Linked DNA regions of Homo sapiens. The protein of the gene in region 1 purifies or fractionates together with the protein of each later gene. This does not show direct contact. Each region holds a gene or a part of one and is shown in the gene's direction. Other genes may lie near its edges.

What was found.
Region 2: the proteins of TAF8 (region 1) and GAN purify together in Homo sapiens (co-immunoprecipitation; 2 studies listed by BioGRID and IntAct, with this or other methods). This does not show direct contact.
Region 3: the proteins of TAF8 (region 1) and TAF4B purify together in Homo sapiens (affinity purification with mass spectrometry; 3 studies listed by BioGRID and IntAct, with this or other methods). This does not show direct contact.

Annotation. Positions count from the first base shown.
Region 1 is NC_000006.12:42,072,882-42,082,819, forward strand, and holds part of TAF8 (transcription initiation factor TFIID subunit 8), read left to right. Parts: intron 1-4,218; coding exon 4,219-4,358; intron 4,359-4,651; coding exon 4,652-4,664; 3' UTR 4,665-6,854; coding exon of another isoform or gene 6,855-6,894; 3' UTR 6,895-9,938. UniProt on the Homo sapiens protein: The TFIID basal transcription factor complex plays a major role in the initiation of RNA polymerase II (Pol II)-dependent transcription.
Region 2 is NC_000016.10:81,358,601-81,368,538, forward strand, and holds part of GAN (gigaxonin), read left to right. Parts: intron 1-3,898; coding exon 3,899-4,011; intron 4,012-5,193; coding exon 5,194-5,343; intron 5,344-6,373; coding exon 6,374-6,510; intron 6,511-6,749; coding exon 6,750-6,878; intron 6,879-9,938. UniProt on the Homo sapiens protein: Probable cytoskeletal component that directly or indirectly plays an important role in neurofilament architecture.
Region 3 is NC_000018.10:26,270,384-26,280,321, forward strand, and holds part of TAF4B (transcription initiation factor TFIID subunit 4B), read left to right. Parts: intron 1-4,279; coding exon 4,280-4,441; intron 4,442-4,547; coding exon 4,548-4,670; intron 4,671-9,938. UniProt on the Homo sapiens protein: Cell type-specific subunit of the general transcription factor TFIID that may function as a gene-selective coactivator in certain cells.

The DNA of each region.
Region 1 (9,938 bases):
CCGGCTAATTTTTTTGTATTTTTAGTAGAGGCGGGGTTTCACCGTGTTAGCCAGGATGGTCTCGATCTCCCGACCTCGTGATCCGCCCGCCTCAGCCTCCCAAAGTGCTGGGATTACAGGCGTGAGCCACCACGCCCAGCCAATAACAGGTATTTTAAATTATTATTTTATCTCTTGATGAGAGTGCACCTCTCAAGGTCTGTTGTTAGGCAGTACATTATTTAACCTGGTTCTAGTTTCTCCATGTACTTGAACATAAAGGAGCTATTCATTTTAAATTCATGTATAATTTAAATTCATGTATAATAGATTCTTTTCTCACACATTTGAACCAGCTGCTCTCTGCAGCCAACCCAGATATCTAAGCTTTTACTCTTTTATGAAAAATATACCAGTCACTCACTCAACCAGTGTTTATTTAGCACCTAGTATGTGCCAGATATTTTTTCTGGCTGCTTGGGATAAAGCAGTGAGAAAAACAAAGAAAACCTCTGCCTTTTAGGAGCAGAGTTTGGCTGTGGGAGAATGATACCAAACACAATATATGACTAAATCGTTGCATAGTATATCAGAAATGAAAGTGCTGTGTGGGGGAAAAACAGTAGGGGAAGATCCAGGGTGAGGAGGAGTCTTCAGTTTTTAAGTGGGGTGCTCGGAGTAGGCATTACTGAGAAGGGGATATCTGAGCAGGAGCTTGAAATGGGTGAGGGAGTGAGCCATGTGGATATCTGGGGAAGAGTGTTCTGGCAGAGGGAATGGGCAGTGCAAAGGCCCTGTGGAATAGTGAGTGGCTTGTGGGAGGGAGGGTCAGATTGGGTAGGGCCTTGTAGGCTATTTTAAGAGCTGGCTTTTAACTAAGAGAGATGGGAGTTGTGGGAGGGCGTGGAGCAGAGGAGGGATGTTTCTGAGCTTCTTAAAGCACCACTCTGATGGCTCGGTAAGAACGGACTAGAGAGATCAGTCAGGAAGCTGTCGCTATAGCCTAGGCGAGAGGCAGTGGTGGGCCCAAGTAGAGTGGTTGCCACAGAGGTGGTGGAAGTGGTCAGTGCCTGCCTGAATTTTGAAGGTAAGTCCAAGAGGCTGTGCTAACAGATTGGGTATGGGATGTCAGTGAAGGAAAAGGAGTGTGCCAGGTGTGGTGGTGCATGCCCATAGTTGCAGTCACTTGGGAAGCTGAGGCAGGAAGATTGAGCCCAGGAATTTGAGTCCAGTTTTGGGCAACATAGTGAGACCCTGTTTAAAAATAAAAGAAAGAAAACAAGCAAGAATGACCACAGAGTTTGTGACTCGAGCCATTAGAAGGATGGAGTTGCCATCACTTGTGATGGGAGGGACTGAGAAGCGCCGTTTACACCACAGGGGAAGGTCCCCAATTCAGACTTAGGTGCCTGAAGTCTGAACTGCCTACCTGATACCCCAGTGGAAATGCTGAGTGAGCAGCTGGCTGCATGAGCCTGGAAGTCGGGAGAGGTTAGGGCTGGCATTGTACTCCAGGGAGCTGTTGGCGTAGAGATGGCACTGAGAGCTGGGAGACTGGATGCAGTCACCACAGAGGGTGTAGGCCTTGCTAGAGCTCACAGGCAATTCAGGGAGCTCCTGACGGACCATTCTGCTCCCACTTTTTTTTACAAATCTCTGGGTCAGTTTGACACTTTACTTTTTTGTTTTTTTGAGACAGAGTCCCACTCTGTCGTCTAGGCTGGAGTGCAGTGGCACAATCTCGGCTCACTGCAACCTCCAACTCCCGGGTTCAAGCGACTGTCTTGCCTCAGCCTCCCAAGTAGCTGGGATTATAGGCGCCTACCACCATGCCCGGCTGATTTTTTTGTATTTTTAGTAGAGGCAGGGTTTCACCATGTTGGCCAGGCTGATCTCGAACTCTTCACCTCAGGTGATCCACCTGCCTTGGCCTCCCAAAGTGCTAGATTACAGGCGTGAGCCACCACGCCTGGCCTACTTTTTTTTTTTTTTTTTTAACTGGCTGACTTCCCCACCCCTAACCATCTCAGTGCTGCCTGTCCCTGAAGGGGACATTTCTATGAGGCCTGCTTGGGAGAAGGAAGCCTGCCGTCCTGCTCTTGTGAGCCACGGTGGGCCGAATGGAGGGAGCCTCTTGACCCTCCAGCAGTGTCTTGAGGCTGGCGTTTTCAGCACCTCTAACAGTGTTACCTCCATGTGTATCTCAGAAAACATTGAAGGCACGGTTGAAGTGAGCTTCCAGTAACTTTGAAGATAGGCTGTCTACTGTAGAGAAATGATAGGATGGACGGAGCGAGGAGATACTACTCATTTGTACCATTAGGAACTTCAGAAAGGTTGGATGCCAGATACCCAAGGGAGGTCTGGTTGTGGGCAGACCTTTTTTCCGGCACCTGGTCTGGCCTGAACTAGGTTGGTCCTGCAGCACTTGCTTTCAAGAGTCTCTGGAAGGCCCCAGTGGCTCTGGGTCACCTTGTGGTCCCACTGGATTGGGTGCTGGAGAGGGAAAACACACAGGCCCTGATACTGGGCCAATGGAACTGTGTCTTTGAAGAGAACAATTGATAGGACAGGGAGAGGGCACGCAGGGGAACCTAGATGTGATCTGGTTTCTTCTGGCTCATTAAACCTGAGACTGGTGTCCATGCCCTAGGCCAGCTGTCCTGTCAGGGGAACCTGCTATTTATTTCATGCCATCCGGTCATGGCATCCTCTGTCTGTTTTGACAGCAGCCTCTCCTGCTTGAGGTCAGTGAGGGCCTCTTTAGCCTCAAGTTGCAGAACAGGAATCTCAATGACTTCTTCCCCGTGGAAGAACTTCTTCCCCTTGGCCCATCACCAGGGGGCGCAGCCCGACCAAACGTGGAAAATAAAGGAGGCTGTGAATAAAGACAGGATAACTGACTGCTCATACTTCCAGAACAGTTTTTAAAATGTCAGCATATTACCTTTTTTTCTGTGTCTATACACAACTGTGACTTTTTAAGAATTTTGATCATACTGATTACATGTGAACTTACAAACTTTTCTGAAAAAACACATTTTTCTCAAAAAATGAACAGTAAAGCGGCCGGGCGCGGTGGCTCACGCCTGTAATCCCAGCACTTTGGGAAGCCAAGGCTGGCAGATCATGAGGTCAGGAGATCGAGACCATCCTGGCTAACATGGTGAAACCCCGTCTCTACTAAAAATAAAAAACTTAGCGGGATGTGGTGGCAGGCACCTGTACTCCCAGCTACTTGGGAGGCTGAGGCAGGAGAATCTCTTGAACCCAGAGGCGGAGCTTGCAGTGAGCTGAGATCACACCACTGCACTCCAGCCTGGGTAACAGAAGAAGACTCCATCTCAAAAAAAAAAAATGAACAGTAAAAAACCCTGCCTCGGAGTTCGAGACTAGCCTGGCCAACTGGTAAAACCCCGTCTCTACTAAAAATACAAAAATTAGCCGGGCGTCATGGCACATGCCTGAAATCCCAGCTACTTGGGAGGCTGAAGCAGGAGAATTGCTTGAACCCCGGAGACGGAGGCTGCAGTGAGCCGAGATCACGCCACTGCACTCCAGCCTGGGTGACACAGGGAGACTCCATCTCAAACAGGCAAACAAACAAACCCTGCCTCATAGGTTGCAGATAGGCATTACCAATGATGTGCATGTGCTGGTACCTGCTGGCTCTGCGTCCCTTAGTGGAACCCTCAAGGCTCAAGAAGTTTCTAGCCTGTGCTGGGATGTGATTGTTGGTACCATGTTGCAAGTACCAGAAATGTGAGGATTTGAGGGAGAAATCTGTTCTGACTTAGTCTATCTAGCTTGGCCAGGAGATGCGCTATGCAGATGATGTGTTCTGATCCTGTATCTCCCAGTCATGCAGGGCATCCAGGATCACTTTTCTTCTTCATCTCCCCACCTGGCCGGGCATCCTCCCTGAGGCATCTGAATTTGATTCCTGTCCCTCCCAGGTGTCTGTTCTTTCTAACCCCTGTCCCTGCCTTCTCCAGAGGTTCAAAACTCTGGACTCTGTTGTGTGCTCTCTTGGGTCAAGGCTGTTAGTCTTGCCTTCCCTTCATAGCCAGCCCCTGCCTGGTCCTCGCTTCATCGGGGCAGAGATAGGAATGTTGGAAAGAAGGTGCTTCCCAGGTTCTAATTTCTCAATTAGAGGATGCTAATGGTCATTCCAATTATAGGCATGATCTCTTTCCTTATGCTGTTGATGTTGTGCTTTATTTTGGCTTTTGCTCAAAGGAGGATTCTGGAGCCGAGAAGGAGAACACCTCTGTCCTGCAGCAGAACCCCTCCTTGTCGGGTAGCCGGAATGGGGAGGAGAACATCATCGATAACCCTTATCTGCGGCCGGTGAAGAAGCCCAAGATCCGCAGGAAGAAGTGAGTTGGAGGCTGGGGTCCAGAGAGCCTTCACTGTCCCACCGAGGTGGTCTTCTCTGCTTCTTGGAAGAGTCTCCTCAGTGGGGCGGAGCCTTGGGGAAAGCCACTCTGGTGAGAGGGAATAGTCTCCCTTTTCCTGTCCTTACTTGGCTCCCGTACATAGCTCTTGTTCCTTAGTGGTTGAGTGTCCTGCAGTCTAGGGACCAACCCTCACAGCACTGGAGCAGTTTTCCCCTAGAAGGAGAGCAGACAGGGCCCACACCAGGAGGCTCCATGGTTCCTCTTCTTTCTAGGTCCCTCTCCTGAGCTGAGAAGGAAACCTGGCTTGTACAGGGGCGCAGATTCCACCCTCCCGGGGAGTTAAAGCCACTCAAGGGAAGAAGAGGGTGACCTCCTCATGGCCAAGCCGAGGCTGCAGGGTGTGATCGGACATGATTTTCATGGCAAACCGTCTTATTAAGATGACCTATTTTCACTGGATGTTTGGGTTGAGGAAGATATGAACAGAATAATGAGAATTTTTTTTTTTATTTTGAGATGGAGTCTTACTCTATCACCCAGGCTGGAATGCAGTGGTGTGATCTCAGCTCACTGCAGTCTCAGCAACCCTGGGTCCAAGTGATTCTCCTGCCTTGGCCTCCCGAGTAGCTGGGACTAGAGGCAAGCGCCACCATGCTGGCTAATTTTTGTATTTTGAGTAGAGATAGGGTTTCGCCATGTTGGCCAGGCTGGTCTTGAACTCCTGACCTCAAGTGATCCACCCGCATTGGCCTCCCAAAGAGTTGCGATTACAGGTGTGAGCCACCACGCCCAGCTAATTTTTGTATTTTTAATAGAGATAAGGTTTCGCCATGTTGGCCAGGCTGGTCTTGAACTCCTGACCTCAAGTGATAACCCGCCTCGGCCTCCCAAAGTGCTGAGATTACAGGCGTGAGCCACCGCACCCCACCAGAGACTTTCTTAATCAATCAGGCTATGTGGTGGGGCATAGCAGCAGCCAGTGACTTCGTTCATTATCACAGGATTTGATTCCTTTGAAACTCAAGAGACCAGGGAAAGTGACAGGAAGGAAAGGGCTCTTTGCTGCTGTGCTTATTACAAGGAAGACTGTTTGTCCAGCGTGTATTTCAGGATATCTGGATCCCTTTTATTGACTCACAATTTGTGGCACCACTTTCTCATCCCAGAACTTCATTCTTATTTCTCTCCTCATCTGGCCTCCCAAGTGCTCCGTTGAGCTGATGAAAAGTTCTTTGTACTCCCTCAACGTGTCGGAAACAGGAGGCCACACAGCACAGCTTTGTTTGGGGTGGGCAGGAGTCAGGAGTCTTGAGCAGATGCATCACTGTGAAGAAGAACGACATGTCGGGGCTGCACCTGTCCTCCCGTCGGCATTTGACGAAAGCTCCCTGAAGCGGGGCAGCACTCTCCTCCTGAGAGATTTACCATTTATTGCCCCTGTGAGGAATGTGTGCTTGGGAACTGCCAAGTCTTACCCCTTCTGGAAGAAGAGGTTTTCTCTGACAAGAGCCTAGAGCGTCGGCTCTATTATGCTGGGACTTGACAGAGGAGCCATGGGGTTTAAACAGTAGGAAAGAGGGGCTACGCGCAGTGGCTCACGCCTGTAATCCCAGCACTTCGGGAGGCGAAGGCAGGTGGATCACTTGAGGTCAGGAGTTCGAGACCAGCCTGGCCAACATAGTGAAACCCCGTCTCTACTAAAAATACAAAAATTAGCCGGGTGTGGTTACTCATGCCTGTAATCCCAGCTACTCGGGAGGCTGAGGCAGGAGAATCACTTGAACCTGGGAGGCGGAGGTTGCAGTGAGCCGAGATCGTGCCACTGCACTCCAGCCTGGGTGACAGAGCGAGACTCCATTTCAAAAAAATAAAAAAAGGATAAAGTAAACAATAGGAAAGGATTTGGTGGGGTGAGGGTGGGGTGTTGAGGGCTGGGCCTCATCTTGTATTCTGAAAGCTGAGAAACGGCTGGTCAGCTGGAAGGCTGGTGGATGGGCAGGAGTGAGCCAAGCTGAGGCGTTCTGCAAGAAGCAGGTCTGAGTCTGTCCAACCAATTTGTATCCTGTGGGGAGAACAACTTCATTCTTAACATACCCTACAAACCAGAAAACAAGTTTTTAAGGAAGATGCTGGGCATGCTGATAGCTTTTCTGGTCTCCTAAGGAAGAGTTTTTAAAACTAAATCCAAGGAAGAAAAATGTAACAACACGTGGAAGTGAACACTGGATGAATAAGCTTGTTTCCCAAATTAGAATCCTAACGTCCATATTTAGCTTCATGTATTCCCCTTTGGCTTCCACAGTTCAACTCCTTTTATTTTGAGACAGGGTCTCGCTGTGTCGCCCCAGCTGGAGTATAGTGGCACTACCTCGGCTCACTGCAACCTCCACTCCCCGGGTTCAAGCAATTCTCAGAGTAGCTGGGATTACAGATGCCCGCCACCACATCTGGCTAATTTTTTTTTTTTTTTTTTAGTAGACACGGGATTTTGCTATGTTGCCCAGGCTGGTCTTGAACTCCTGGCCTCAAGTGATCCACCCGCCTTGGCCTTCCAAAGTGTTGAGATTACAGGCGTGAGCCACGGTGCCCAGCCCATCTCTTAGTCTTCCATTCCCTTGGTGAATTTGGAAACTTGAAAAACTTGGGGACTTGACAGCAGGCTCCATGTTCTTCTGGCCTCACTGTACTGTGTAAGGAAAGAGCTGCTTGTCAGGAACGGAAGAGGGGACGCTAGTAAAAAAAAAAAAATTGGATTCCCCAACTGGACTAAATAGGAGTTTTTCAGGTTTGTAGTAACGTGAAACTCTCCTAGATCGAAGCAGTTAGACTGGCCTATGTGGCCTTCTCAGGGTTTGTGATTCAGTTCTTAGCGATTCTTGGCCTGATAAGTTTATGAACACAGCCCCACATTCAAGCCGTGGCCAATCCCAGCTGTTCTCACTGCTCTTGGGAGGTGTTGTCCCAGTCAGTGTTTCTGCAGCTTCCATTTGTTGTTGTTATCCAGTGTAAGCACCTGTTGAATGCAGATGTGCTGAGTTAGAGGTGGGATTTGGAAAAGGGCTGCTATTTCTGCTGTTGAGATTTCAGAGGCTATACTCTTTTTTTTTCTTTTCTTTTTTTTTTTTTTTTGAGACGGCATCTCACTCTTATCGCCCAGGCTGGAGTGCAATGGCGTGATCTCGGCTCACTGCAACCTCCACCTCCTGGGTTCAAGGGATTCTCCTGCCTCAGCCTCCTGAGTAGCTGGGATTACAGGCACCTACCACAATTCTCGGCTAATTTTTTTTGTATTTTTGGTAGAGACGGGGTTTCACCAGGTTGGCCAGGGTGGTCTCGAACACCTGACCTCAGATGATCCACCCACCTCGGCCTCCCAGTGTGGGTGGGATTACAGGCATGAGCCACCGCGCCTGGCCTCAGAGGCTATACTCTTATAATTTTGTTCTGAGGGGAGACAGGGAAAGGGTTAGACAACTTGAAACATTGACCCTGTATAAAAATGCAAAATTCTCAATGTGTATTTATAAATTTCTATTTTTTATAACTTTATGGGACTTCTTAGAGGCCAAAAGTAGTAAACATGCAGATTAAAAATGTTTATGAAAATCTCAATAAAAATTCATAATAAAAACTTTGTAAATAAATAGAACTGTAAGCTTTGAACTTAATTTGTGTTCAAAAGTTAACAGCAATGTGGACAAATAAGTCAGGCTTAGCCCTTGTGTTGGCCTAAGCACACCTGGGAACTTAGTAAAACTTTTATTTTGGAAATTTTCAAATACAAAATTAGAGAGCAAAATATATGAACCCCTGTATATGCCTCATCAAGCTTCCACACTTGTCAGTAGCTTGTTGATTCTGTTTCATCTGTTTCTCCCACTTTTTGTCCTTTATTTTCTTTCCTCCTGGAGTGTGTGTGTGTGTGTGTGTGCGTGTGTGTGCGTGTGAGACAGAGTTTCGCGCTGGAGTGCAATGGTGCAATCTTGGCCCACTGCAACTTCTGCCTCCCGGGTTCAAATGATTCTACTGCCTCAGCTTCCTGAGTAGCTGGGATTATAGGTATCTACCACCACCACCACGCCTGGCTAATTTTTTCTTTTTTTTTTGGAGACGGAGTCTCGCTCTGTCGCCCAGGCTGGATTGCAGTGGATTGTCAAGATTGCAGTGGTGCAATCTCAGCTCACCGCAAGCTCCGCCACCCAGGTTCACGCCATTCTCCTGCCTCAGCCTCCCAAGTAGCTGGGACTACAGGTGCCTGCTACCACGCCCAGCTAATTTTTTGTATTTTTCAGTAGAGATGGAGTTTCACTGCATTAGCCAGGATGGTCTCGATCTCCTGACCTCATGATCCGCCCGCCTCGGCCTCCCAAAGTGCTGGGATTACAGGCATGAGCCACCGCACCTGGCCTAATTTTTTTGTAGGTTTAGTAGAGATGGGGTTTCACCATGTTGGCCAGACTGGTCTCCAACTCCTGACCTCAGGTGATCACCTGCCTCAGCCTCCTAAAGTGCTGAGGTTACAGGCGTGAGCCCCCGCGCCTGGCTCTTCTGGAGTATTTTTAAATGCAAACTCCAGACCTGTGTCATTTAATCTAAATGTGTCTATACGTATCTCTGATTGATCTTTCTTTAAATTTTAATTTTGGAATAATTATAGATTCACAAGATGTTGCAAAAAATGTTGAGAGAGATCCTATGTACCCATCACCCACTTTCTCCCAGTGGTAGCATCTTGCATAACTGTGGTGCAATATCAAAACCCTTGCATTCAGTTTCAGTGTACAATGTAGATGGTATATTAGTACAATGCATAGAGCTTATTTAGTTTTCACCATGTGCACGTGTGTGTTATGTGTGTGTTGTTCCGTGCAGTTTCATCGTGTAGATTTGTGTAACCACCAGCACACAAATGGTGAAGACACAGAACCATTGCATCAGTACAGTTCTCCCTCATGCTGTCTCTTTGCAATCACATCCACCTCTCTGCTCTTCCACTTCTCTCCTGGCAGCCACTACTCTGTTCTCTATCTCTAATGTTATTGAAAGAATGTTATAAATTGAATCATAAAGTATGTGACTTTTTTCTTTTTGAGACAGAGTCTTGCTCTATCGCCTAGGCTGGATGGAGTGCAGTGGAGCGATCCCAGCTCACTGCAACTCCTCCACCTCCCGGGTTCAAGAGATTCTCCTGCCTCAGCCTCCCAAGTAGCTGGGATTACAGGCATGTGCCACCACACCCAGCTAACTTTTGTATTTTTAGTAGAGATGGGGTTTCACCATGTTGGCCAGGTTGGTCTCCAACTCCTGACCTCAAGTGATCCGCCCACCTCAGCCTCCCAAAGTGCTAGGATTATAGGTATGACCCACCGCACCTGGCCGAGTATGGGACTTTTTGACGTTGGCTTTTTCAGTTCTGCATAATTCTCTTGAGGTCCATCTAGGTGGTTGTGTGTATCAGTAGTTCCTTTCTTTTTATTGCTGAGTAGCATGGAGGCACCATAGTTTAACACAGTTTCTTTAACCATTCACGCATTGAGACAAAAAAAGTTCTTAATTCTG
Region 2 (9,938 bases), on another chromosome or scaffold:
CCTGTCTCAAAAAAAAAAGAAAAAAAAAGAGAAGTTATGAGACTTTAGGAAATGCTACTTATATAGGCAATGGCTTAAAGTTATTTAGTATGGAAAATGCTTTACTTGACCTTTACAAGTTTGAAAACTGCTCTACTTTATCCAAAGCTCTCCCTTAAGGAGCTGATAGAAAAGATAGCCATTGAGGCATTGCCTTTGCTGGCTGCCTGTCTTTTCGCCGTGGTCCTGCTCCCTTGTCCACCTGATAAGTGTCATCTCATGTCATCCTAATTGTGGTCAGCAGCCCTCCTGCAGTCCTTATTTAATTGTGTTTGCTTGCCCAGCAACATTATCTTTAAAATTTTATTTTTTATTTTATTTTTCTTTTTAGAGATGGGATCTTGCAATGTTGCCCAGGCTATAATATTTTTAAAGCTATACTGTACCACAGTGCATCATACAAATGGCCAAGGCTCTACCATAGTATAGAAGTGGAGTCATTTTATGAGTCCCAAAATTATTAGTTATTGTCAGTAGTGAAGAGCTGGACAGAGTAGTATAGCCTGCAGGATGTAGGTCTAGTTTCCCTGTTGCATCTTCTCAGAATTAGCTCCCTTACATTTCCCCCAAAATATATACACATATTCCTAATTTTCACACATACACGTCTGTCACAAAGGCTCCTATATGACTAATATTTGAAAGTTTGCTAGAGGGATTGGTGTTTCAGAAACCCAGCAATGGAAGGAGCGACTGTGTACAGTGGAATTGATGGAAACAGAAGTGAGTGATTGAGGAGGTCCTTCCGTTTGTCCAGGCTGCATTGTTTTTTTTTTTTTTTTTGCCTTTTTAAAAATTGATTTTGACTGTTTTTTTGTCATTCAATTTTTCTTCTCTACCAGTTTGGGACTTACATTCTTGTTAATAGTCCTTTAGGAAGATTACCTTAGAAATTACAGCCTGTATTAAGTTAGCAAAGTCCAAAGTTAGTCAGTACCTGTGTTCTCTTCAGGAGAGTTTTTCTTCATTTTCCATTTTCCATACTCTTACAGTTTTAAAATGCATTATCACTAATAAATATGTACAGTAGATCCCCCTTATCAATGAGGGATGCATTCCAAGACCCCCGAGTGGTTGTCTGAGACCACAGATAGTGCTGAACCCTGTACATACTGTGTGTTTTTACTATACATCCATACCCATGATAAAGTTTAAGTTCAGCACAGTAAAAGATTAACGACAATAACTGATAATAAAACGACGATAACAATATACTGTAATAGTTATGTGAATGTGGTCTCTCTCAAAATATCTTACTTTACTGAACTCACCTATTTTCGGACTGCAGTTGACCATGGGTGATAAAACCACAGAAACCAAAACTTCAGATAAGGGGTAGCTACTATATACACAATATGTCTTTTTTTGATATATGTTGGATGGATGGATGGATGGATGGATGGATGGATGGATGGATGGATGGATGGATAGATGGATGGACAGACAGATAGGTAGATAGATGATTGATAGACAGGCAGGTAGGTAGGTAGATAGTGTTCATTTAGATTTGCCACTTTCTTCGTTCTTCCTTCTTAACTCCTCAGACTTTCCACCTAGGATCATCTCCCTTCTCTCTGAAGTTCATCCTTTTGAATTTCCTTTAATATGGGTCTTTTGGTGGACAACTCTCAGATTTGATTGCCTGCAAATGTCATTATTTTGTCTTCATTCGTAAAGGATATTTTTGCTGAGTATAGCATTTCAGCTTTGGTATTTATCATTTTTCAGCACATTGAAGTCATTCCACTGACTTCTGCCTTCCATTGTTGTGAAGTCAGTGGCAAGTCTAAAAAATCTCTTCTCTGGTGTGTATTTAAAATTTTCTTATTATTTTCCATCTTTTTGTCTCACTGTGCTGTTTTCTTGATTATTATCTTTTGATTTATCTTCTTTTCTCCTTAACTCTGATTAATCTGCTATTACATTTATCCATTGATTTTTTTTTTTTAATTTCTACAAATTCTTGTCTTTTTACAGGAGAATAACTTAATCCACCATTACCTTCAAATCCTCTCTTATTTCTATAGTTCCCTGTTACCTGGAGTTATCTTCCAGTTAATTTTTATTTTTTAAACATGATAAGCATTTGTTTAAATTATCTTTGTTTTTTAAATAAATTTTAGACTTTATTCTTCATCACCCAACTTGAAAAAAATCATCTTTCTGGTTACTATAATATTTGAAATCTTTGCAAGACTACTTCCTATGATCTGCTTCTGCTGGTCTTTTCTTAGAGTCTAATTTTTGGTATGTCTGATATCTGTGGCTGCATGCTGCTCATTTATTAAACATTATTTGTAGCAGCCGGGCGCAGTGGCTCACACCTATAATCCCAGCACTTTTGGAGGCTGAGGCGGGTGGATCATTTGAGGTCAGGAGTTTGAAATCAACTGGCCAACATGGTGAAACCCCATCTCTACTAAAAGTACAAAAAGTAGCTGGGTATGTGGTGGCATGTGCCTGTAATCCCAGATATTCAGGAGGGCGATGCAGGAGAATCGCTTGAACCCAGGAGGCAGAAGTTGCAGTGATCTGTGATTGCACCACTGCCCTCCAGCCTGGGCGACAGAGCAAGACTGTCTTTAAAAAACAAAAAAAATCAAAAAAAAATTATTTGTAGCAATAACTTTCTGCCTTAGATGTCCTGGGATGTTAGAATCTAAGGCTTAGATTAAGGTCCTTCTACAGAAGTTTTGCATTTGTTTCTGCCAGTTGACTGAAAACACTACTAATTTGGTATTAACTGTAAGTTAAGTTCAAGGCTCATGATTTCCCAGATAGCAAGGAGATTTAAATCTGAGTACGAATTCTGGTTGGCCTTCATCCTGACAGTGTAGAACTTTGGAGAGGATCTCCTGCCAGAAGCCACGTTTTCTGTGGACCTGGAGCTTAAACTTCTGTCTTTTTCATCCCCAGGACAAAAGGTTTAAATTTTCCTAGATTAGAAATGCCCTCAGTGTAAAATGGTTTTCATGCTTGATAACCTCTGTAGGTCCTAATTTTCCCTTCAGTTTTGCCTTGTTATCTTGTTGGCTTCTCCTCTTCTAAGAAGATTATTATTGTTGTTATTTTTGAAACAAGATCTCACTTCGTTGCCCAGGCTGGAGTACAATGGCATGATCACAGCCCACTTCAGCTTCACACTCCTGGGCTCAAGCGATCCTCCCATTTCAGCCTCCTGAGTAGTTGAGACTATAGACAAATACCACAATGCCCGGCTAATTTCATTATTTTTTGTAGAGATGAAGTCTTGCTGTGTTGCCTCCTATGAACCTCCTGGGCTCAAGCAGTCCTTGTAGCTTGGCTTCCAAAAGTGCTGAGCCACCACCACCCGGCTAAGATTATTTTTTAAATGTTTTATCCAGCAAATTGTTTTTTGCAGAAGAATAACCTAATACGCCATTACATGAAATCGGAAGTTCAGTTGCTCTTAGATCCTGTTTTGAATAGAAAGTGCACACGGATGCCTCAGATCTGGGTATTCCTGGGGTCTAGAATGAACAGATGTGCGCTGCGGTGCAAAAGTTGTATGAGAATCCCAGAGGCTGAGAGGGAACAGAAGAGATGAATTGAGATGGCCCAGAGTTGCCTGGTGACTGAGCGGGTGACGCCAGGCTTCCTTTTTCATTGTAGGGTGGTGGAAATCCCCTCAAAGACAGTAATGAGTAAAGCAAAATGGTCAAAGTGATGGTTTGGCTCCATCACCAAGGATCCAATGGGATGTGATAAAAGCCCTGAATCCAAAGAGAACATTGTTGTCATCAGAGAGTTTCTTCAGATGCTGTTTCTATATATGCTGTGGCGTTTATGGGTGTTGAAGACTCACATTTCATATTTGTGTTTCCTTTGATCTTTGCAGAAGGATTTTTGTTTGTATTCGGGGGCCAAGATGAAAATAAGCAGACTCTTAGCTCAGGAGAAAAGTATGATCCAGATGCAAATACATGGACAGCATTGCCACCTATGAACGAGGTAAAACACTAGTTGGTTGGTTTGTTTGATGTGTTTCTCTTTCCCCTTAGCGCTTCTGTTTGTTTTGTGTCTGAGTTCAGGGAAGAAACGGCAGCCTTGTCAAGCCACCTGCCTCATTCGCTCCAACCTCTCCTTCTAGTGCCCGGCTCTCCTCCCCTTCCTGGCCCTCACTCCTTCTGGCCTCCATGAGTTTCTGAAATCTTCCAGGAATGCCCTCACCCCAGCCTTCACATTTATCCTGCCCTGTGCAGATGCCAGCGTGGCCTGCCCCCTCCTCGCAGCACCTTCTCAGCGGGCCTCCCTCCTGCCTCTTAGCTTTCCTGTCCCCGTCTTCGTACGACGTCTCACCATCTCACGGACCAGGCATTTAAAGTTTTTCACATAAGCTCTTTGATGGCAGAGAATTACATGTGTTCTGGTCAGTATTTCATTTTCAGCACTAGAATCGTGCTTGGCACGTAGGGTTTACTACATAAATATTCATTGACAAACGGACATGAAACACCTAGGGCTTCTATGATCCCAAATAGCCTTGGCCTGACCCTGTCCTCCACAGCCCTTTCTGCCATAGTTTATACTAGCCTTTCCCACGTCAACTTGAAAACACTGCCCTTTGTTATGCAAAAATAATTGTATTGAACCAGAGGTAACAGTTCATTTTCTTGTTGTGAGCTATTATGGGTTAAAAAGTGAGGATTTTCTGATGAACTCACCATGTATTTCTTAAGTTTGTTTTGAGAAGTGGCTTTGGCCTCTCTGGCTGTTGTGCTGGAAGAGTGGGCTGTTAGGGAAGCCAGAAATCTTTAAGAAGCATTACCGGAGAAATGGTTTTGAACGTGGTACTTCCATGCTGGAACACTGGGAAAAAAGATTTCTCTAATTTTTAAAAATAGTTTCAACTTTTATTTTAGACTCGGGGATACATGTGCAGGTTTGTTATGTGTGTATATTGCATAATGCTGAGGTTTGCAGTAAGATTAATCCAGTCTCCCAGGTACCAAGCGTCGTACCCAATAGTTAGTGTTTCAGCCCTTGCTCCTCTCCCTGTCTCCTTGCTCTAGGAGTCCCCATTGTCTATTTTTGCCATCTTTATGTTTCTCTAATTTTTATTAAGTGTATGAATATCAGCTTTCAATATGATCATTGGCCTTGTGTGTTCAGGGATCGCTAATGTAATTTCAGGCAAGACATAACTTCGGAATTGTGGAGATAGATGGGATGCTGTACATTTTGGGAGGAGAGGATGGTGAAAAGGAGCTGATTTCCATGGAGTGTTACGATATTTATTCTAAAACCTGGACAAAGCAACCTGATTTGACCATGGTCAGAAAGGTGAGGACTGCATTTTGTGATAACTAGTCTGTGTACACATTGGATTTTAAACTTAATGTGTCTTCATATCCTGAATAAACCTTTAATATAACTGATGGTGTTAAAAGAATTAACTTTATAGAACTCTCTTTATCGGTAGTTTGCCTTCACTGTCATCAGCCACACACCAAGATAGGAAAGTGAGCGTGTGTGAGAGTTTATCCTGCTTGTGGGCCCTGTGCAGCACCGCTGTGTGTCAAGCTCCACATTTGAGTGTGCAAATGGTGCAGCAGCCACATCTTCCCAACCTATTTTCTTTCTGTCTTTCCCTCTCTTACTCTCTCTCTCTCTTTCCTTTTGTTGTTGAGAGAGGGTCTTACTCTGTTGCCCAGATTAGAGTGCGGTGGCGCCATCTTGGCTCACTGCAACCTCTTTCTGCCTCAAGCAATCCTCCCACCTCAGCCTACTGAATAGCTGGGACTACAGGTGTGCACCACCACACCCAGCTAATTTTTGTTTTTTTAAGTAGAGATAGGGTTTCACTATGTTGCCCCGGCTGGTCTTGAACTCTTAGGCTGAAGCGATCCCCCATCTCTACAAAAAAGTTTTAAATAAAGTTAGCCGGGCACAGTGCTGTGCACCTGTAGTCCCAGCTACCCAGGAGGCTGAGGCGGAAGGATCTGTTGAGCCCAGGAGTTTGAAGCTGCAGTGAACTATGATGGCACCACTGCACTCCAGCCAAGGCAACTGAACGAGACCCTGTCTCTAATAAATAAATAAATAAAAATGAGGCTTTTGAACTTCTTTCAGTTAGTGAAATAGTATCAGTTGGAGTAAGAGCTCCTTTTCTGAAGATTAAGAATATGTGTCTTACTTTGCTCTTCTCATTTTAAAGTCCGGTGTTGTAATACTGAAAAGCACCATCGTTTTACGGTTAGAAATCAAACCCCTTCCTAAATCTCTTTAAGTATGGCCCAGACAGTTTAATATCTGTTCACCTGACCTGAATGAGAAATGTTGCCTCTCCCCCACCATTGTTCTCTGCTTTCAGATCGGCTGCTATGCAGCTATGAAAAAGAAAATCTACGCCATGGGTGGAGGCTCCTACGGAAAGCTTTTTGAGTCTGTAGAGTGTTATGATCCCAGGACCCAGCAGTGGACTGCCATATGTCCACTAAAAGAGAGGAGGTACGTGGCTGTGGGGTGGACTTTGTAGATTCCCTTGCTGTTCACTGGGTCTGGAGCCCCTTACCCTGCCTGGCTTTTGTTCTTTTCTTTCAGAGTAACCTTTTCTTTGACTTGGCATTTCCTGAGAAAGGAAGGCCCACGTAGTAATGCTGCAGAGTTAAACCAGCATAAGAGGAACGCGGGAGTGAGATCTCGCATTGTACAGCTTGTGCCTGATAACGCTGTGTGTGGCCTTTCAGGTTTGGAGCGGTGGCCTGTGGAGTTGCTATGGAGCTGTATGTGTTTGGGGGAGTCCGAAGTCGTGAGGACGCCCAGGGTAGCGAGATGGTAACTTGCAAGTCCGAGTTCTACCATGATGAGTTTAAAAGGTAACTAAGAATGGTTTCACATAGCTACTGCAACTTTTTCTTTGTGCTTTCAGTCGTATTTTAGCTTTGTTTAGTTTTGTTTTCAGTCACTTTATTAAATTATGGATTTAGGAGATAACGTCTCATGCATACTAGATATTTATTCAGTGACTTCACAAGTGCTAGTAACTTAAAATGTCTGCAAATAGAAAATATCTCTAATATGTAGATGAGATCTTGACGCTTAGTTGCTTAAAATCATTTATTGGCTCCCTATAGCTTTTAGGAAAAAGTTTAAAACTCCTTAACTTGTTGGGCATGGTGGCTCACACCTGTAGTCTCAACATTTAGGGAGGTAGAAACTGAAGATTGCTTGAGCCCAGGAGTTAGAGATTTGCCTGGGCCACATAACAAGACCCTGTTCTCCAAAGAAAAATAAATAAACTCCTTAACTTAGCATATATAGCCTTTTGTGATATGGCCTTTGCTTTTTCTGCTACTGACCCAGATACTTTATACCGAGCCACTTTCCCCTGCAAACATGTGTGGTTGTCTCAGCTCTGTTCGTATTGCTGCTACTTGCCTAAAAGCTCCCTTCCCGCTGTCCATCCAGTTAGCTTGGCCTTTTTCAAAACTGCTTAGTTATCAAAACCTAGAGAAAGCCTTCTCATGCCTCCTAGTCTGATTTTTTATCCCTTCATCTATGATTCCATGCCCTCCAGACAAGTCTCTGGGGTTGTAGCTGTTAACTGCAAGCAACTTCAGGGCAAGGTCCACCTTCGTCAGCTCTGTATCCTGGCTTCCAGCATCCTACCTGTCTGTATCAGATGCTTAGTAAAATGTTGATTAAGTGGCTGAGGCTTGATTTCTGAGATTCTTAAAACCTCTGACAAGTGCCACGTATGTCTTGTAGGGTAGATAACATCCTTCTCGATGTCTTCTCTCTTTCCTCACACATTTTATTGTTGTAACCACTGAGCAGTATTCTTATTGCAGTAATATGTTTAAATCCTAAGGGGAAATTGCTGTGCTAAACGTAATTTTATTAGAGTAGTTCAGTCGTGCTACCAGAAGAGGGTGCCATAACATAATGTTTAATTTCATGCTGTTTTAGATGAGGGCACGCAGTGAGCAGTTACAAAGATGCTGCAAATGCATGTAAATGCTGCCTAACATGTATTTTAAATTTAGGGTATTTGCATAGCCTTTTTTTTCAATTACAGGAATAGACTATCTTAGGAAAATTTATTAGAGAGCAGTTTAGAGAATACTTGCTGTGGTAGGGGCAGATTTTCAGACTTCTCTACATTTTTCCTTCCTTGATACATGACTGGGAGGGCTGATTGCCCAAGGGATGAAGTCTTTTTTTTTCTTTCTTTCTTTTTTGGAGACAGTCTCGCTCTGTCGCCCGGGCTAGAGTGCAGTGGCGTGATCTCGGCTTACTGCACCATCTGCCTCCCGGGTTCAAGCGATTCTTCCACCTCGGCCTCCCAAGTAGCTGGGACTACAGGCGCATGCCACCATGCCTGGCTAATTTTTGTATTTTTAGTAGAGGCAGGGTTTCACTATGTTTTCCAGGTTGGTCTCGAACTCCTGACTTAATGATCCGCCCGCCTCAGCCTCTCAAAGTGCTGGGATTACAGGCATGAGCCACCGCACCTGGCCTATCAGGTTGTTACATATTTGTACTGGATAAGCTTTTAATATAACTATCACTTGCTTTAAGTTCATAATAATTAAACGTAAGACTGTGGTTCCTTCTTTGCTGTTTAAAAGCACTTCTCGCCAGGTGCACTGGCTCCAGGCTATAATCCCAACACTTTGGGAGGCCGACGCGGGCAGATCACTTGAGGCCAGGAGTTCAAAACCAGCCCGGCCAACATGGTGAAACCCTGTCTCTACTAAAAGTACAAAAAAAAAAATTAGCCAGGCATAGTGGCACGTGTCTGTAGTCCTGGCTGCTCAGAAGGCTGAGGCATGAGAATTGGTTGAACCCAGGAGGTGGAGTGTGCAGTGAGCCGAGATTGTGTCACTGCACTCCAGCCTGGGCAACAAAGCGAGACCCTGTCTCTAAATAAATAAGAGCACTTCCAAATAAAATTAATGTATATTCAGTTCCTTATTTCTAAGCTCTCTGATGTTTGTAAATAGAATGAAGAAAGCTGTTAATTTATCTTACCAATATAAGATTCTAACATGTTTAGATAACATTAAACACACATATAACACCAAATGCCATGTATTTAATCTTCAAAACAGCACTCTGAAGCGCATGTAGGTACTGTTACTATTCCTATTTTCCATATGAGGAAAGGGTGAGCGGTGTGCCCACAGACACACAAGGAGCAAGAAGCTGAGGTGGGATCTGAACTCAGGCGTTCTGGCCCCAGAGTCCACCTTTTCAACTACCACGCTAGATTGACTTAAAAATATAGGCTTTCCTATAACTATCGATAGAACAAAATAACATGTAGGAGTAGTTTATTTCTTAAAAGATCAGACGCAAATGTGTTATATTGGCATAGTGTGGAAACTGTAGTTGCCGGATGAGCAGTCCATATTTGATTGGAGACCATGTCGATTGTTTTTAAGTAATCTCTTGTCTTTCCTGTCTTTGTTCCCTATTTTTAGGTTAAAACTTTCTGGGAAAAAAGCCATATCTTATTCTTTTCTGTTTTTCTGAATAAAAGCAAAACTGCTTGAAAGGAAAGCAAAGAAATTGCCATAAAGTATTACCAAGCCAGAGCAACAGCTTCATATACCCAGAATGACGGTTTCTCTATTTCTGTTCCTTGTGTCCATATTCTGTTAGTAACACTACTATCCTCCCAGTCATCCATGTTCAAAAAAGGGTCATCTTGGCTGGCACAGTGGCTGACACCTATAATCCCAGAACTCTGGGAGACCCAGGTGGTAGGATCCCTTGAGCCCAGGAGTTCAAGACAACCCTGAGTAACATAGTGAGACCTTGTCTCTATGAATTTTGAAAAAATTCAAAAATGAGCTGAACATGGTAGTCCACGCCTGTGGTCCCAGCTACTTGGAAGGCTGAGGCAGAAGGATCACTTGAGCCTGGGAAGT
Region 3 (9,938 bases), on another chromosome or scaffold:
TGAAGTCTTAATAGTTCTAGAACATGAAAGCTTGTGTTCATTTACTTAGTAATCATAGCCAGTGATCACTAATTATATTTGTAGTTTTTAAAAAAATTACTTTATTTAAAAAATAGAGATGAGGTCTTACTCTGTTGCCCAGGCTGTTCTTGAACTCCTGGGGCTCAAGCAAATCCTCCCGCCTCTGCCTTGCAAAATGCTGGGATTATAGGCATCAGCCATTGCACCCAGCCTTTATTAGTAGTTTTTATAAAAGAGACAACCTGGAGCCTGTGAATTCAGGTGAAGGGGAAAATCTTTACTAAGCTTAAACTAAAACTTAGAGTTTCTTGCAACTATGAATGTAGGCTTCAAACTATGGAACCATTTTGAGGGGGAAAATCTTTACTAAGCTTAAACTAAAACTTAGAATTTCTTTCAGCTACAAATGTAGGCTTCAAACTACAGAACCATGGAGTATTACATTGTGTTAGTACATATCTGTGACTTTGTCACAATAGAAATAATTGAAATTTGTATGTTTCCTCGTGTTTGTAGTTATTTTAAAATGCTCATGTTAATCTGTCATTGATATTTTTGTGTGGACCATTTATTTTTCTTAGCTAATTTAGGTTGATGCATATTTTAAGTTGGGCTACTCCTTAGTGGTAGCCTAGAACAGTGGAAATTAGTAAAGAATGAAGTTAATGATATCTGTCCACTTTAAGGGATAAGCATCTCAGTTTTAGGCATGGAAATAAGGAGCTAGAACTTAAAAATGAGAGAAGATACAACTCCTTGTACTTGATTGTCAGACTGTAAATGCAAATGTGTGTGTTAAGAAATTTTGAAAGTATTTTCCTATTAGGCTTAGTCTGATAAATATAACACAAGAACTAGTTAGAAATCTTGTGTTCACTTTTACCTTGTATTTGATGAAGATGTAGTTTGGCCCATTGTTAGATTGGAATCTAATGTGCAAATGACTAGTATTTCTAATTAAATGTGAATAAACCTAAAGCAATTGCTGTTTCAGACAGGTACAGAAAATGACCCTCCTTGAAATGCTATTTCATCTTCTAAATTTCCATACAACTCATTTTATTGGCTCTGTGTAGAATTGGTTTTCACACATTTATTTCACATATACTTCAGTCCGTTTTCCTCCTGTCCTCAAGACATGCCTAGTCAGTCAGTGCAGCCTTGAAAAGCATTGAAGTTACCATTGGCTGGTCTGTTGAGTCAAAGGCGGAGTTGTGATTGAGTTTAAGACACTTTGGGCCAGGCATGGTGAGTCACACCTGTAATCCCAGCACTTTGGGAGGCCTAGGCAGGTGGATCACCTGAGGTCAGGAGTTTGAGACCAGCTTGGCCAACATGTTGAAACCCTGTCTCTACTAAACATTCAAAAATGAGCCGGGTGGTGTGGTGGGGGGCGGCTCTCATCCCAGCTACTCAGGAGGCTGAGGCAGGAGAATCACTTGAACCCAGGAGGCGGAGATTGCAGTGAGCCGAGATCGCACCACTGCACTCCAGCCTGGTGGACAGAGCCAGACTCCGTCTCAAAAAAAAAAAAAAAAAGACACTTTTAAGGGTGAGGGGGAATGGAATTTATTAGGCGAAAAGAAAAAAAAAACTCAGCAAAGCCAGAGGGGTTCCCGTTAGCAGGCCCCCATCTCACAAATTGAATCTCGGGTCACCACACAGGAACAGGAGAGGCCAGGCTCCTCCCCCTTGCAAAGGGCCTGATCTTCCTGAGGCTCCACCCCTCCTCCTCCCAGTGGGCAGGCGCGTGGGGGATTCTTCTGGAACCTTTCCCCTAATCTTCCGGTTGCGTCTATCAAGATCATCAGGCATTAGATTCTCACGAGGAGAGTGCAGCTTAAATCACCTGCATGTGCAGTTCACGAGAAGGTTCATGCTGCTATGAGACTAATGGCACCGCTGGCCTGACAGGAGGCAAAGCTCAGGCAGTAATGCTCACTTGCCTCCTCTGTGTGTCTCTATTCCTGACAGGCCACAGACCTATACCCGCCCGCGGCACAGGGGTTGGGGACCCCTGTGGTAAGATACAAGTAGTAGCTATACTAGAAAGTGTTATGAAGGACAGATTTTTTTTTTACTGGAGACAGGATAAAACATTGACAAGGAAAATAGAATTCCATAAATGCCCCCTCTACTTGTAAACGATAGGACGTTTTTCCTAAACTCACATTTCAGTTGGACCTTAGTTTGCTTCCTGAGGGAGGGGGACAGTACACCCCCAAGGAACCTCTCCCATCAGTCCTCAGAGGTGATCATAACCACCAGCTAAAATTCCAGATTACACTTTCTTAAATATGGCAGTACAGAGAGTTAATGACTGATTATAAGATAGACTAAAGAAAGAGGCTTATTTACTGTATAGAAAACTAAAAATTTATTAGAAAATCTCCACAAGAATTCAGAAGAAACTGAGTGGTAGGTTGGAGAGCAGGACTAAAGATATGAAAAGGAGGGAGACTTCCTTTTGAATGTGCATTTGAGGCTCTATATTTAACAAAATTGTACTAACTTAGGTGTAATTTTTAATTTTATCTCTTTTGTTAAAAACTTTATTGTTCTAGTCCTCATCATTAATCAGTAATTTTAAAATCTTATTAAAGTTTTTGCCAGGTGAGCCTTTAGTTTACTTTTCTTTTATTATCCTTATTCAATATTGAAATATGTTACAGACCTTTCTCATAAAATGAACTGAACAGCTTTCCCTATTCTGTTTTTCTAGAACATGTTGTATAAGACAGGAGTTATGCAAAAGTGTGGAAAAATCACATGGAAAATATCTGAGCCTGGAGACTTGAGGGAGGGAGGTCTTTTTGGGTATCATTTCAATGTCTTTAATTTGTCTATTCTAGTTTCTGTGTTTTGTGCTAATTTTGTCATTTCATGTTTTTCCAAAAACCCTTTTGGTTTTGTTTCAAATGTATTAGCATATGGTATTTAATATTTTTATTATGCATTATGAAATATACATGCAAACAAGACTACATGTGATATGTACACATATGTAATATGTACACATATGTAATATGTCTGCTGTTGAAAAAAATAATAGTAAAATGAAGGCCCATATACCCCAAACCCATGTTAGGGCCACCATGTGTCCCCACTCCTCTCCTTCTATCAATTCTCAGCATTTTAAATGTTCTTCCTGTTTGTAAAGAAAATTTTTTTCTAGAGACAGGGTCTTGTTAGGTTACCCAGACTGGTCTCGAACTCCTGTCCTCAAGCAATCCTCCTGGCTCAGCCTTCCAAAGTGCTGGTATTGTAAGTGTGAGCCACTGCACTTGTCCTTCTTCCCATTTTTTACCCTCAGAACATTCTTGTCTAGTACATATTCCAGTCTCTCTAATGTGGGAGATTTTATTGTACATTCAAATTCACCTATCTTGACTATTATAGAAGGAAATTTTCTTGAAGGTGATTGCAACTTGACCTTTTTGTGTTGCATGCTTGTAGAACATAGACATTTAAATTAAATGATGGTGCATTGTTCAGTTTTCTGTGTGAATTGTATGTAAATACTATTCCTTATCCCTGATCCCCAAACTTTTATTATGTTCTGTAACTTTTAGTGTTTGTCTTTAAGATTGTTGCTTTATCTCAATGTGATTTTCTAAATTACTGCCTGACTTGTGATTGCTTGTATGAGGTTTTTGTCCTGTAGGTGATGCTAGCTAGAGTCACACCTCATTTTGATAGAAGGTAGAGAAACAACTGAAATTCTTTTCAGTGTGAATATAAGATACCACGTTTTATAATATTCTTCATGCTTACTTTAATGGTCTACATAAAAGCAGTTTATCTAAATTTTAGATAATAAGTAGATTGCTCTGCTTTGTTCTTAAGAAAAAGCAGAATATTCTATGTTCTCATAAAGACTTTCAGATACTTCTTGGAGTATTAATAATATTTTTTGAGGACTTATTTGCTTTAGCACTGTTTTTCACAAAAAATCCTAGGACAGCAGGTACCGTTGCAATCCCTATTTTTGCAGAGAGTAATCAGGATTAGCAAGATTAAGTAACTTGCCTGCAGTCAACACTTGGTAGGTGGTAATGAAATAGTAGATGGGGTGAGAATGAAACCCAGATCTGCTAGACTCAAGAGTTCCTAGAACTGTATTATATTGCCTTAGACTACTAGAGCATAACATAAAACCACAGATGTCAAAATTAACTTGTCTGATGAGTGTGAAATGAGGCACCCACTAATGTATCATAGTAATACATGCCTAAATATTTAATACCTTTAATTTCAGTCTGTGGCTGTGCCAACCAGTGTCGTCACAGTTACTCCTGGAAAGCCATTGAATACTGTAACTACCCTGAAGCCTTCAAGTTTGGGAGCATCATCCACTCCTTCAAATGAGCCCAATCTTAAAGCAGAGAACTCAGCAGCTGTTCAGATTAATCTTTCTCCGGTAAGCTCTTACTTGCACCTTACATAAATCTTGTTCCTTGCAAGTTCTTTTGAATTGTTTGCTCACTAACACTTGTGTTTGCTTATATTTACATTTTCATATTTAGACAATGCTAGAAAATGTGAAGAAATGCAAGAACTTCCTTGCAATGTTAATAAAACTAGCATGTAGTGGATCACAGTCCCCAGAAATGGGGCAAAATGTGAAGAAGCTGGTGGAACAACTTTTGGTAAGTAGTGCTATAAAATCCTGCAAATTCTGGAGGAATCCATATAACATGTTGTAATTGGGAAATGCATATTTTTAAATGGGATTTATTTAATTTATTTATTTATTTAATTTATGTTTTGAGACAGAGTCTCGCTCTGTTGCCCAAGCTGGAGTGCAGTGGCGTGATCTAGGCTGACTGCAACCTCTGCCTCCTGGGTTCAAATGATTCTCCTGCCTCAGCTTCCTGAGTAGCTGGGATTACAGGTGTGCATCACCACGCTCGGCTAATTTTTGTATTTTTAGTAGAGACGGGGTTTTGCCATGTTGGCTGGGCTGGTCTCAAACTCCTGGCCTCAAGTGATGCACTTGCCCTGACCTCCCAAAGCGTTGGGATTACAGGCGTGAACCACCAAGCCCGGCCTGAGATTTATTTTAAATGTAGTTCTTGATAAATTTTGTTTTTTGCTTCTTGAAAGCTTTGTAAAGACTATAAATCTTGGCTAGAAAAACCTATTGTATATTTCTTTTGAAAATTTACCTTTTTAAAAAAATTGTATATGTTTAAGGTATACAACATGATGTTTTGATATATATATTATTTCTGTACATCAGTCTTGCCTCCCTTACTCTACAAAGGGCCTTGGAGAAAAGGTTCATTATTTAGTCAATAGGAAATTGTTATTAGAATTATGAAATCTCTGCTGGGCACAGTGGCTCATGCCTGTAATCCCAGCACTTTGGGAGGCCGAGGCAGGTGGATCACCTGAGGTCAAGAGTTTGAGACCAGCCTGGCCAACATGGTGAAATCTCTTCTCTACTAAAAATATAAAAATTAGCCAGGTGTGGTGGCGCACGCCTGTAATCCCAGCTACTTGGAAGGCTGAGGCAGGAGAATGGCTTGAACCTGGGAGGCAGAGGTTACAGTAAGCTGAGATTGCACCACTGTACTCTAGCCCGGGCAACAGAGCAAGACTCTGTCTCAAAAAAAAAAAAAAAAAGAAAAGAAAAGAAAAAAGAATTATGAAATCTCAGAAAGCCAGGCTATCAATAGATAATGAAATTCGGTTCTTATATGTCCAGATAGACACCAAGCTTTGGGACCACAGAAGTTAGTTAATGCTCTTAGGCCTCACTTTCCTTATCTATAAGATTCTCATCTTGCAGATGAGAATGTTAAACATGATGATCGTTGATGTTTATATGAGTGCCAAGATGCTGTGTCTTTTAGCTACCAAATTATATGCCTTTGGTTTCTTACATCCTCTTTCAGGTAAAATATGTAGGTGCACTAAAAAGAGTGGAGATAGAAGTTAGCAAATATTTCATATTATATGCTTAAGACATGCTGAGGATATAACAAACAAATGGATTTGGATTTTTTGAACTACTATAATATACAGATTTCTCTCACCACGTAATTAGAATTATATTTTTCACATAAAAATTATCCCTTTTTCCAAGTATAAAATGTGTATATTTCAAATATTATACAGCAAAAACAAGCATAGTTTATAAATATTAAAATACCTTCTTTACTACTGTTTTTAATGCTGCCTGTAAGATGTTAGAGCACACTTGAAATGGTTAGTTTTTCATTTGGGAAGATGTTTTTATTACAGATGTCTAAAATACCTCATACTAACAAATTTTTAATTCAACTTACGGGTGTCTTTTTAAAAGTAAACATTGAGCTTTTGATCTTCCCTTTTCAAGGTATGCTAGTTTTGAAAGGGGATATGATGACTTGTTTCTCTGAAATGGAATACTCTAGATGAAGAGACCTGTTGGAAATGAATACGTATCCCATAAAATATTAAAGACTTTTTAACCACAAAACATATGTGTGAATTTTATGGACAGATAGAAACAGTTAGGAATTAAATATTACCTCTAGTTTTAAGATCTGTTTACTTTAGAACGACAAACAGCAGTTCTAAAACATTTTGGTTTTAGGATACCTTTAAATTCCTAAAACTTGAGGACTCCCCAAGGCATTTTGTTTTTTGTGGGGTTAACATTAAAACTGAAAAATGCTTAACTTTTTTTATTGAAAAAATTTTTTTTTGAGATAGGGTCTTAACTCTGTCACCCAGGCTGGAGTGCAGTGGCGTGAACAAGGCTCCCTGCTTTCTTGACCCTCCTGGGATCAAGCAATCCTCCCACGTCAACCTCCCAGGTAACTGGGACCACTGACATGTGCCACCACACCTGGCTAATTTTTTGATTTTTTTTGTAGAGACAGGGTCTTGCTATGTTGCTCAGGCTGATCTCAAACTCCTGAGCTCAAGTAATCATCCCACCTTGGCCTGGCGAAGTGCTAGGATTACGGGCATGAGCCACCGTGCCCAGCTTGTTTATTAACAAATAACAGTAAACCCATTAAATGTTAACACAACTGACATTTAAGTGAAAACCGAGTTTCAAAACAACAACAGAATTGAATGAGAAGAGTGGCATTGCTGTACCAATTTTGCAAATCTCTTTAGTGGCTGACCTAATGGAAAACAGCTGGATTCTCATATCTTCTGCATTTAATCTGTTTTGTGATATGTTATTTTTTTGGGAGTATTTGGAGAATATCTGGTCTTGTGAAGAGAGGTGGTTGGAATAGTGATTATTTTTTTAAAAATAGCTTTTCTCCAGATCATGGTGGATATTCTTTAGAGTCTACTGGTTTATCCTGCATGCTGAATGGATCTTTTACCCACGTATGATTTTTGTAATGACATTCATTGTTCATTGGGAAAATACTGGTTCACTGAGTTATGCAGATCTTTCAAATGTTTCCAGATTTATTATTTAAGATATCAAAATAACATGCTCATTAAATTCACCAACCTTATTAGAAAATTCTTGTACCAGGAAGCTATCAAGCTCAGAATAGTTGTTACACATTTTTCAAAATTGTAATTTTGGCTGGAGAGCTTTAATTTTTATCATTAGCAACAAATGCTATCCATTGTTTTCTTTACTGTTAGTGGTTTAGTTTGTTGTTGAGAAAATATCTAACAAATACCCAAGTCTGAATAACCACAATTGCTTTGCCATTCTTTTCAGTAAAAATGGAAAAAAGTGGCTAGTTTAGCGACTCAATTACAGTGCTTTTCCTTGATCCTCTGACTTTGATCTGCAACAAAAATGCTCCATGTATGTTTCCTATTTTGTTATATACAATATTAAAGAGGTATCTACTGAAGAGTTGAGATTTAGTAAAGTTAATTTTTACTGCTTCATCCAAGGATGTTTCAAAGTGAAATTGGGTCTATTTTTTTTTATTTTTATTTTTTAGAGTAAGAGTCTTGCTCTCTTGCTCAGGCTGGAGTGCAGTGACATGATACTAGCTCACTGCAGCCTCAAACTTACGGGCTCAAGGGCTCCTTCCACTTCACCCTCCAAGTAGCTAGGACTAAGAGGTGTGTGCCACCATGCCCAGCTAGTTTTAAAATATTTTTTTGTAGTGACAGGGTTTCACTTTGTTACCCAAGCTAGTTTCCCAACTCCTGGCCTCAAGCGATCCTGCACCCTTGGCCCGCCAAAGTACTGGGATTACAGGTGTGAGCCACTGTGCTTGGCCTTCTGTTGTTTTTTTTTTTTTTTTCTCCAAGCACATAGCACTGTAGAATGTGATGATGGCTGTTTCACTTTGCCATTGCCTTTCTTACCGGTAGTTTTACCCATTGTTGCCTTTGCACCATGTGTGCAAACATTAGCTTAGTGAAAAAGGCTTTCTCTCCAAGATGTTAGTATTAATGGAAAATAATTTAGATCACACATACCCCTGAAATGCTTAATAGTGTAAGCAATGTGTAAAGGTTCCTCAGTTCTTTGGAACTGCTGTTATGGATTTACAATGTCATTCTGAAAATAGTCTTGCAGATCCATAGCCAACATCATATTGAATGGGCAGAAGCTCGAACCATTTCCCTTGAGAATTGGAACAAGACAAGGTCTCACCATTCCTATTTAACATAATATTGGAAGTTGTAGCCAGAGCAGTCAGGCAAGAGAAAGAAATAAAGGCCTCCAAATAGGAAAAAAAAGGAGTAAAACTCTGTCTTCACTGATGATATGATTCTATGCCTAGGAAATCTTAAAGACTCTGCCAAAAGGCTTCTAGAACTGATAAACGACTTTAGTAAAGTTTCAGGGTACAAAATCAGTTTTCAAAAATCAGCATTTCTATACACCAAAAATGTTCTAGCTAAGAGCCAAATCAAGAGCACAGTCCCATTTACAATAGCCACACACACAAAAATGAAGTACCTAGGAATACAGCTAACCAAGGAGGTGAAAGATGTCTGCAAGGAGAAATACAAAACACTGTTGAAAATTCATGCTTATGGACTGAAAGAATTGATATCATTAAAATAGCCATACTGCCCAAAGCAATTGACAGATTCAATGTTACTCCTGTCAAACTACCAATGTCATTTTTCACAGAATTAGAGAAAACTCTTTTAAAATTCATATAGGACCAAAAAAGAGCCTGAATAGCCAAAACAATTAGAAGCAAAAAAAAAAAAAAAACAACAACAACAAAGCCAAGTGGCATCACATTACCTGACTTCAGACTATACTGTAAGGCTACAGTGATCCAAACAGCATGGCACTGATACAAAAACAGACACATAGACCAATTGAACAGAATAGAGAACCCAGAAATAAAGCTGCACACCTACAACTATCTGATCTTTGACATTGTCAACAAAAATAAGTAATGGGGCCTGGCCACAGTGGCTCACACCTTTTATAATCCTAGCACTTTGGGAGGCTGAGGCAGGTGGATCGCTTGCAGTCAGGAGATTCAGACCAGTATGGTCAACATGGCGAAACCCCATCTCTACTAAAAAAATACAAAAATTAGCTGGGTGTGGTGGCATATGCCTGTAGTCCCAGCTACTCAGGAGGCCGAGGCAGGGGAATTGCCTGAACCTGGGAGGGGGAGGTTGCAGTGGGCCAAGATCACGCCACTGCACTACAGCCTAGGTGACACAGTGAGACTCTATCTCAAAAAAAAAAAAAAGTAGTGGGGAAAGGACTGATTCTATACATGGTGCTGGGATAACTCATTATCTATGTGCGGAAGAATGAAACTGGACCCCTACTTTTCACCATATATAAAAATTAACTTGAGATGGATTAAAGATTTAAATGTAAGACCTCAAACTGTAAAAGTCCTAGAAGAAAACCCAGGAAATACCCTGCCTGACATCGGCCTTGGCAAAGAATTTATGGCAAACTCTCCAAAAGCAATTTCAACAAAAACAAAAATTGACAAGTGGAACCT